Linked DNA regions of Homo sapiens: region 1 is linked to region 2. Evidence: fine-mapped expression QTL. A gene starts in region 2. The other region holds a variant in brackets. All regions are shown on one strand. Distances are between the middles of the regions. Region 1 overlaps C10orf88 (chromosome 10 open reading frame 88). Region 2 holds the start of C10orf88 (chromosome 10 open reading frame 88).

Region 1 (5,387 bases), 20 kb after region 2:
AATTTTAAAGCCAAGCAAACTGATCTTAAAGCAAGCAGAAAGAAGGAAATAATAACAGAAATCAGTGTAACTGAAAACAAGCAAACAAAATCAATGAAGCCAAAAGCCAGTTCTTTGAAAATTTCAATAAAATTGATACACTTCAAACAAGACTATCAAAAGATAAAAAGAAGATGCAATCATCAGTATCCGGAATGTAATGAGATGTCACTACTGATCCTAAGGCCGTTAAAAGATAACAAGGGAGGGAATATTACAAACAAATTTATGCTCATAAATTTGACAACTTAGGAGAAATGGATTAATTTCCCCAAAACCACAAACTACCAACCAAACTCAGCCAACATGAAATAAGTAATAAAATAGTCCTATAACCACTAAAAATATTTGATTAATGATTGGAAAGCTCATGAAAAAGAAATATCCAGGCCCAGATGGCTACACTGAAGGTTTCCACTGAACATTTAAAGAACATCAATTTTACATGCTTTTAAAAACTAGAAGAGGAGGGAAGATGTTCCAACTCATTCTGTGAAGTCAGTATTAGCCTGACACCAAACTAGATTGCCCCCCAAAATTAAAATACACAAAAATGCATGTAAATATATGTAAAATATGTAAATCTATAAAAAATACTTATAAAATATATGAAAAAATTTATAAACCTAACAAAATATATAAGGATATGTGAAATGAAAATTATAAAATACTGACAAAGGAAAAGAAAAGCCCTAAAAACTGGAGAGACATACCATATTCATGGATTTGAAGACACAGCATAGTAAAAACGTCAATTCTCTCCTAGTTGATATATAAATTTAATGTAATTCCTATGAAAAATCGAGCATGATTTTTTATAAATATGAATGAGATGATTCTAAAATTTAGAAATGGAGAATTTTTTAAAATGGAAAAATAAAGGAACTATAAAAAATTTTGAAAAAGTGTAAGAGAAATCACTACTTGATTTCAAGACATAGCCACAGTATTCAAGACTGTGTTATTGTCAGAGGCATAGACTTATAGATGGATAGCACAGAAATAACTCTGCACAAGTACACCAACTGACGTTTGACAATGCAAAAATAATTCAATACAGGTAGAATTGTCTTTTTAACCTGTGCTGGAACAGTTGGATATCCACAGGCAAAAAATGAATTGTGACTTAAATCTTATACTTTATGCAAAAATTAACACAAAATTACTTATAGATTAAAATGTAAAATATAAAACTATAAAGCTTTTCTACAGGAGAAACTCTAGGGACCTAGGACTAGGAAATGAGTTCTCAGATATGACATCAAAAGCGTGATCCATAAAATAAAAAACTGATTTATTGGGCCCCATCAAAATGTAAAACTTTTGTTTATGAAAGACACTGTTAGGGGAATTAAAATACAGACTGGGAGAAATTCTTTGCAAATTACAAATCCAGCAAATGACCTGTCTCTGAAGTACATAAAGAACTCTCAAAACTCTATGTTAAAAGCAAATAAAAATAAAACCTAACAATCCAATTTAAACCATGGGCAAAAGAATAGTCATTTCAACAGACAGGATATACAAATAGCAAATAAGCACAAGGAAAGTTGATCAACATTGACTTAGTGACTATTAGGGAAATGCATATTAAAACCACAATATATCACTACATATTTGGATGGCTAAAATTTAAAAATGGTAACAATACCAAATGCTGACAAAGATGTTTGGGAACTGGATCTCTCATACATTGTTGGTAGGAATATAAAATGGTACAGTCACTCTAAAAAATATTTTGGCAATATCTTAAAAACTAAACATACAGTTACCGTACAACCCAGCAATTATACTCCTGGACATCCCAGAGAAATGAAAGCTCAGGTCCACACAGAAACTTGTACACAGTTATTAATAAAAGCTTTCTTTGTAATATCCCAGAAGTCCCAACTAAAATGTCTTAGCAATAGGTGAATGGTTAAACTATGGTACCTCCATATCACGCAGTGCTGATGAGCAGTAAAAAACAACTTGGACATCTCTCAAAGGCATTTTGCTGAGTGACAAAAGAGAATCTCAAAAGGTCACATACTGTATGATCTCACTTTATAATATTTTCAAAATAATAAAACTGTAGAGATGAACAACATATTGATGGTTACCAGGTATTAGGGAAAGAAGACTTTAGGGGAGTAGGTATGACAATAGAGGGGTAGCAGGGAGGAGATCATTGCAGTTAAAGAATGGTTCTGCCTTTTGATTATGGTGGTGTTTAAATAAATATGTGTACATATGATAAAATGGCATAGAACTATACACACACATCATATTAATATCAATTTCCTGGTTTTGATATTGGATTATAGGTAGATAAGATGTGACCATTGGGAGGATTGGATAAAGGGCACTGAGAAACTAATATCTTTGCAACTTCCTGTGAATCCATAATTATTTCAAAATA[C/A]AGAGTTTCTTAAAAACTGTCTTTGGTGTATTCTAGAGTAGTGGCTCTCAGACTTTTGGTCTTTACACTCTTAATTGAGGACTCCAATAAACTTATGTAGGCTACATAAAAATATTTGTTTAAAAATAACAATAAACCCACTGTATATTAACATAAATAACAGTCTTTATGAAAAAAAGCCAGATTTTCTTTTAAAATTTTATTGAGAATAGTATTATTTTAAATGTACATGAATCTATACATAATAGCTTTTGGCTGCATTATCATGTATATTGAATTATAGCATGTATAGTGAAATATAGCTAGTAAGAGCACAGTAGGAATACTGAGAACAGAGTGGATTAATCTCTGAAAAAGCATATATTTATACACTAAATCTCTACTACCTTGAAATTTTAGGAAAGAAGAATACACAACTACAGATTCTGTTAGTCATCAGGGCAATAACATAGATTTTGTAGCCTCTGGAAAATTCATGAGTATGAGGATGAGAAAGTCGAATAACATCTTAGTATAAACATACTTCTGACCTCAGTGAATTCCCAAAAGAATCATGGAGACCCCAAGGTTCTGTGGACCACATTCTGAGAGTTACTGTTCTTGTTTTGAGACGGAGTCTTATCACCCAGGCTGGAGTGCAGTTGCGCAATCTCAGCTCACTGCAGCCTCTGTCTCCCGGGTTCAAGCAATCCTCCCAGGTAGCTGGGACTACAGGCGCCCACCACCATACCCAGCTAATTTTTGTACTTTTAGTAAGAGACAAGAGTTTCACCATGTTGGCCAGGCTGGTCTCGAACTCCTGACCTCAAGTGATCCACTCACCTCAGCCTCCCAAAGTGCTGGGATTACAGGCGTGAGCCACCGTGCCTGCCCTGAGACTTACTGTTCTAATGTTCATTGTGAACGTTAGAAATTGGTGTGCTTTTTATTTATTTTGTTAGTTTGCCCATTCTAGTTAAATTCTGAAGTGTTTTTATACCAGGTTAAAAAAAAGAACCTTCTAGTAGTTTAGTAAGGTTGTTTGTATGAAGGAAGAAAAACTTTATAGAGTTGGTTGGGGAAGTATTTGAAAATATGCATGTTGACTTTAGAAGAAAATTGGGCCAGATCAGTTTTGATTTGGACCTCAAAATCAAAAAGACCCTTTCTAAAGACTTGCTCTTTGAGGGTTCCTTTTCACTTTTACATTTCTGTTCAATTGTATACTAAAAAAGAATTAATAATGTGTTGGGCATTTAGGGCTGTGGTTGCCTATTGTGGATGTGTATTAGGACCTAGAAATGCATTGTAAGAAGACAGAGCACAGTTGTGGAGACAAATCTCAGCAATATATGTTGGCTGCTTGTTTTATAAGCTTGGTTGTTTTTGTTATTAGGGAAAATTTACACATTTTTAAAAATGTATTTTTAGAATGGAAGAGCAATCTATTTGCTCCTACTTGGAAAAGATTCTTTCTAAAAATATGGAACTGATGGAAAAGAAACTTATGGATTACATTGATCAGCGAATACATGAACTCCAGGAGCACATTGATGATAAGATTGCTTTGTTACTGGATTTGCTGCAAAATCCTAACTCCCCGCCCACTGGGATACCTCTAAGACATTATGACTCTGGAGAAAGACTTTCAAATGGAGAAAGATAAGCTCTCAACATAAACAGTGTACTGCAGATATTTATTACATATTTATTACAAAGCCAAAACCCAAAAATATTTATAAAAAGCAAGTATTTAATGTCCTTTGAGGGATCATTGTCTTACACAAAGTGACCTCAGTTTTCGTTTTTACTACACTTGTTATTTTAAATCCAGTACTGTACACTGAGTTAATATGATACAGTCAAATTATTTTTGCTCACGATATTTTTCAGTCTTACAGAAATGTATGTATATTTGTGTTAAGAGTTTAAAATGCTTGAGGATTTCTAATACAGTTCATTAGTTTGTATTGTATATGTGTTTAAGTATAATTTTTATTTATACAAAGATCTTATAGTCTTAGAAGTATGAAAAATAATGCTTAAGAGTATTTGATTTTTTTCTTTTTCTAATTATCTTGGAAAATTGGATACTTAAGACTTGGAGCCTTTACTTCAGATTACCAGTTTACATTTTGTATTGCTTGTGTGAGATAATGAATAAGATGTGATATTTGGCATGTGTAAACTTAGTTCACTCTGGGGTTGTTAATATTATTTGTTTCATTACAGAGTAGCTGTAGGTAGGAAAGTAAACATCAGAACTAGCCTAGTCCTTGTTACGATTAGTACTTTGGATTTGATTTTTCCTGTAAAACAGATGCAGTCATCTTGTTTGACCTCAGTAACCCCAGACAGTTTAAGAAAACCTCTCCTTTTGAGCTGATACAGGTTTTTTCCCCAGAATCCTTTTCTGGCATGTTTATTGTATGAAATAATGAGGCTCTCCATGGAAGGATGAACACATATGAGTCAAGGGATTGCAATTCTCTCTGATAGACTTAGTTTTCAGACCTTATAACTATTGTATATGCATTGAAGGGTGATATATTTGCATATAAAAATAAATGCACCTGCTCTGGGAACTACTTGTCTTTAGTTAGTAGAACTGTTTTATTTCAACTAATCTTTACTTCAAATGTCTTATTTTTTAGAAAAAGGGTATCTCATACTCATTTAATATTTTGGCAAATTTCTTCTTTAAAAATGTTACCTGATGTAATTCCTGCGTGACATAGCTGAATTTTTACCCTGCCCTAACTCTGCTTATCTTTAAGAAACAGGATGCCTGTGATGAAAAGTTCCTTTTGTAACCAGTCCAGAGGAGACTGGTTACAACCACGATAGCTGACCAAACGACTTTAAAAAGACCTCAGCCTTTTTATAATCTTATTTCTGTGCTAAATAACGCTCCTGCTAGCTCCATGACAGTTGACAATCGCCATGACAGTGACCAGAAGAAGCCATG
Region 2 (5,387 bases):
GCCCCCACCATTCAGTTATCTCCCACGGGGTCCCTCCCACAACAAGTGGGAATTATGGGAGCCACAATTCAAGATGACATTTGGGTGGGGACACAGCCAACCATATCACCAACTATATTTTCTGATTTACTTCAAAGAGAAAAGTAAAGCAAAAAACTCACTTGTAATTCATGACAAGAATAATGTATCATATTAAGATTGAAGTCAGCTTTGAACCATAACCATCCTGGCTTTGGAAAAAAGCTTAAGATTGAATGTACTAATTTTCCTTTTTCTGCTGCTCTTAGTTTATGTGATAAAAGCTGTCACCAACCTATCAATTCCATACAACAAACCTGTACTCAACATAATGTCTATCTCAGCAAGCATGCAGATAGTAGGGAACACAGATATATAAACAGGCAAAGTCTGACATCAAAGGAGAATTATACTACCTAAAAAAGTGGTAATTGTAGCACAGAGGAATTTGTTTAATTCTGTAGCAGGATGAAGTAAGCTTGGTTTCGCATGATAAATAGGATTTTTCCTACTATTGAAAAAAATGGCATTCTAGGTAGAGGAAACTGGAAGGTAGGCAGGGTTCAAAGTACAAAGGACTCTGCATGCTATGCTAAGGAGTGAAGGTGTTGATTCAGTCAGGAACATTGATCACCAGAAGGAGAAGAGGGCAGTGCAAAGACTGAAATGGAAGGAATCAAAATGAAAGCTACTGACAAACTCCTGGAATTGTTCAGATAAAGCTAGTGCTTGGAAACAGAAGAAGCAGAGATAGGAAAATTTTTCTTTAAGAAAATGAAGACTTGGTGGTTTATTGGCTGTATGGAAATAAAGGAAAGGATAGACCATAGGAATCTTTTGTTTTCTGATTCCTGGACATTCAGCTTTATTTAAGGAAGTCAAAATCCAGTTTATAATATTGCTATTGCTCATGAAATTGCAGATTAGTTTCTGAAGAGCCTATTTTCCTTCGGATTGTCCACATGTATTAATGTGGATCAAAGTTAACTTACAACCACAGGAAGCAGGACATACAGGACAAAAATAATGACAAGGACAACTTAGAATGAGTCTGAAATATTAAAAAAATCTTTGCAAACGAGGACTTTACAATTCTGCTATGATAGACCTTTGGTGACATTTCTCTCTTTCAATCTTGGTGAATTCACCTACCATACGTACATTCTGGTGATTACTTATAGAAAAATACATTTGGTCATCATTTTTCTTGCTTTGACACAGGTAAACAGAATGCAAAGTTTATTCTCATTTTTAGCTAGAGGGCACAAGTCCTAGTACATAAACTCAAACGAAAACATAAGCAAAAAGATTAAAGTAATGCGCACTGAGTCATGAACCCAGAATAGACAGCTCTGAAAGAAAATTAGAGTATGGGTGAGCAAAAACGTTATTTCCTAGAGAGGATACCACCTTAAACACAACTTTGGAACTCTAGATTATAGACAAGTGGAATTTCAGAGTTTGCTTTTTTCAAAAGACAGAAAAATAATCTGCACAAGCCTCTACAGGAGGAGGATGAGGGGGCACACTATATACAGTCCCATCCCGTGGGGCATCTAGAAAGTTCCATCTGCTCCCACTGTTCTGCATCCGTAGCCTTAAGTTCCTTCAAGACTGAGTTCATATTCTACTTCAACAGAGTTCTGAGACCCCCCCTTTCCACTCGCTGTTTCCAGTGCCATGAGGAGCGATCTCATGGGGCAGCCCCTGCCTTCGGTGTCTGGGTCTTTCTTGCATTTCAAATTTCTGTCACCTAGAGCGTCCAGCCCTGGATGCCCGGGTTCCTGCGGCCTGAGGGTTGCACATGGGGTCAGGGGGCGTCAGCTGAGACAGCACCCGGCGAAGGCCAGCGTGGCTCAATGCCCATCACAGATGCCCTTCAACCCCAAAACCCCATCATCCGCTTCAGCCCCCCTCTAAAGCGAGAATATGTGTGAGGGAGGCTAGGAGAATTCGAAGTAAAAATAACCCGAATCGGCAGCGCGTCCGCCGCGCTAGCTGCCACAAATGCTGCAGATCCGACGGAATGGAAGCAGAAAAGGCCCTGGCGTCCCCTTGGGAAAGAACGAGGTCAGGAGTCGGTCTTGCACGCAGCGTAGAGCGACGAGACTACACCTACCTGATCACAGACGTTCCACACCAGCTCAGCAACGGTCGTCCACGCCGCTTGCTGTTTCCCCACAGCCAACGTCGAAAACACCCTCGTGCCGGCGCGCAGTGCACCGCGCCTGCGCATAGTCTCCAGCGAAAGAGCAAGGGTCTGCCAGTGCGCATGCTCCGCTCTCGACCTCCTCCCCGCACACTTTGAACGCCGCGCCTGAGGCCAGCTGGCACATGCGCATGCGTGTCTCTGGTGCCTGCTCTCCCCACCAAAGCAAGAAGCGGCGGGTACTTGAAGCGGAGTGAGCCGGAAGTCGCTTTGCCTGCCCATTTCCACGCTGTACCGGCGGAAATTCAAGCACTGGAAGAGAGGTTCCGGGGCTGGGCTGGCCTGACTGAAGGCGGCGGAATGGAGACGCGGACCGAGGACGGGGGCCTCACCCGCCGCCCCACGCTGGCCTCTTCTTGGGATGTTGCAGGCGGGGCCCTGACCCACAGCCTCCTCCTCACCCGGGCCGGTCTCGGCCCCGGTGACTTCGACTGGGAGGAGCTGCTGGCACCGCCTGCTCCAGGGTGCGCCGGGCCGACGGGGACGGGGTCGCTATGCTCGGCAACTGCCGCGCTTCTAGGGGAGCTGTGAGGGGAGGCGAGAGGGTCTGAGCCCGGGATCCGGGAGAGCAGTTGGTACCAGGTCTCTAGTTGGGGAGGGGAGCTGCGAGGTCGTCCGGGGTGGGCGGAGGGGGGTGGGTCCGGCCGGGAAGGGGCCGAGGCTCCTGGGCGTGAGAGGGGGAAGGTGACCCGGACTCGGAATTTCATATAACGTCCCCATCAGGCGTGATAGCCCCTCAGGGCTGCTGTCAAAGTCAGTCCGCCCCTCTACCCTCAAACAAGACACCTCCTGTCCACCAAAACAGGCTGTGTAAAAAGTCCAGCTATAGATGATCGCTGTCGACTTAATTTCGAAAAAGATACACTTTTGTCTTTCATTGTGCCCTGCACCCAGTAGGTGCCCAGTGATTTATGTAATTATCCGAGAGTCAATTGCAGGGGATTGAGTAGAATGTTGATTGAGGAAAAAATAGAGTTTGGGAAAGCCCTGATGTGTGACACCTTCATTTCCGTATGAATTCTGTGTTGAGCGCTTCTTGGATGCTTGGGAAGGTGCTTGGACCTCAAGGGCAAGTGGAAGTGAGTTAGAAGAAAGAAGCCCCGGCCGGGCACGGTGGCTCACACCTGTAATCCCAGCACTTTGGGAGGCCGAGGCGGGCGGATCACGACGTCAGGAGATCAAGACCATCCTGGCTAACACGGCGAAACCCCGTCTCTACGAAAAATACAAAAAATTAGCCGGGCGCGGTGGCGGGTGCCTGTAGTCCCAGCTGCTTGGGAGGCTGAGGCAGGAGAATGGCGTGAACCCGGAAGGCGGAGCGTGCAGTGAGCCGAGATGGAGCCACTGCATTCCAGCCTGGGCGACAGAGCCAGACTCCGTCTCAAAAAAGAAGAGTCATGTTCAGAGAACTATACTGTGTGATGTTTTCACCAATTTTCTTCTCAGTCAGGATCTGGTGATTTTGAAGAGAAACCACAACAACAAAGATGAAAACCCCTGCTTCCTTTACCTGAGGTGTGGCCCTGATGGAGGTGAAGAAATCGCTTCTATTGGCATTTTAAGTTCAGCAAGAAATATGGAAGTGTACTTAGGAGAGGAGTACTGTGGAACCAGTAGGGGCAAGAATGTTTGTACTGTCCTGGATGACAGGTGTGTGACTTGTACACGGGAAAGTGTTCTTCTGAAGTAGTGTTTTGATTTTTCTCACTTTTTGCAATAATTATTGATTCTCTGATATTGATACCATATGTTATGGGAGAGAAGATAAAAATGTGCCAGTAGGCATAGAAGTTTACAACTTTAGAGATCTTAAAAGACAGTGTAGATCAGCCTAGTTATTTTTATAAATGTTGAAATTTAGAACTAACAATCAAGGTGAATTGGTAGGAGGTCATAGCTAGTTAGTGGAAGAGTTTTATTAGAATGAAATTTTGAGAAGTGTGTCTCTTTCCTTAAACTCACAGCAGTCTGTCTTCCGAAAGTTAATTTGGTAGTCAGTCTGGAACTTTGAATACATTTTCTTCTTGGAAGCCTATTAGAAATGGTGGAGGGATCTAAGACTGTGCTACATAAACCTATTTATTAACCTGTAACGCAACTTGTGATTTTTTTTCTTACGAAGATTTTTCTCCAATCTGTCTTTAACACAAAATATGAACTGTTTTATATCCTGCATGTTGGAAACAATTGCTGTGTTTATTGAGCTTTAAAATACAGTCTGGCTACATGGTTGTACATATGTTATATAATGTAATTTTCTCATTGAGCCTAGTAAGTGGTAGATGTAATCATAGGCAGTGTGCTTCAGTTATGGAGCCCAACTCTTCATGCCTCACCAGGAAAACTGAATCTTAGGATTTCAATATTGTTCTGGAAACATTTATTTTTAAGTGTAACTATTAAAAGTGACAATATATGTAAGTAAAAAAAATTAATTCTTTTTTATTTTTAGTGAACATGAAAAGATCATTTTGTATAAAAAAAATCTAAAATTGGAGTCCTCCACACATGCTTGTAAAATAAAGGTAAGTTGTCAGTTGTAAACTAATTTGACAACTAAGTTGTTTTTGTACTCTGTGTATGCTTGTTTTCTTTTGGATTAGTAATACAATTAGTCCAACTTGCTTGCTTGCTTTTTTTTTTCTTTTCAAGACAGTATCTTGCTCTGTTGCCCAGGCTGGAGTGCAGTGGGACAATCATGGCTCACTGCAACGTCATCTCCCAGCTCAAGCTAACTTCCTACCTCAGCCTCCCAAGTAGCTGGGACTACAGGCATACACCACCATGCCTGGCAAATTTTTTAAATTTTTAGTAGAGATGAGGCTCAGAAATACTTAGTAAACATGTACAAAGAAATTACTTTTCTAAAAAATTATCAGCCCTTTTTAACATTGAATTAAGAAATTTTTTTTTTTTTAAATTTTTCACCCGGTGACCAGTGAGTAGACTTTTTCTCTTAAAATTTAACCATGAGCCACGTGCAGTGGTACATGTTTATAATCCCAGTTACTCAGGAGGCTGAGGTGGGAGGATTGCTCAAGCCCAGGAGTTCAAGACCAACCTGGGCAACAGAGTGAAACCCCATCTCACTAAAAAAATAATAAAAATAAAATTTGACTATTTATTAACCTTGGATAATGTATTGTTAATATGGTAGTGC

The links.
Region 1: its variant is fine-mapped to the expression of C10orf88 in blood mononuclear cells (TOPMed, PIP above 0.99). The same link has a PIP of 0.9 or more in whole blood.

Annotation. Positions count from the first base shown.
Region 1 is chr10:122,931,125-122,936,511 of GRCh38, reverse strand. C10orf88 (chromosome 10 open reading frame 88) reads left to right here. Exons shown (of 6, transcript NM_024942.4): 6 at 3,851-5,387. The coding sequence ends at 4,085. Among named protein-coding and RNA genes, the nearest start is that of C10orf88, 20 kb to the left of the region's middle. The variant C/A (reference allele first, on the strand shown) is at 2,441.
Region 2 is chr10:122,951,319-122,956,705 of GRCh38, reverse strand. It overlaps C10orf88 (chromosome 10 open reading frame 88), which reads left to right and starts at 2,479. Exons shown (of 6, transcript NM_024942.4): 1 at 2,479-2,691; 2 at 3,674-3,877; 3 at 4,680-4,752. The coding sequence starts at 2,528. It overlaps LOC124902519 (a long non-coding RNA gene), which reads right to left and starts at 2,264. Exons shown (of 2, transcript XR_007062325.1): 1 at 2,138-2,264. RefSeq lists a silencer at 2,684-2,763.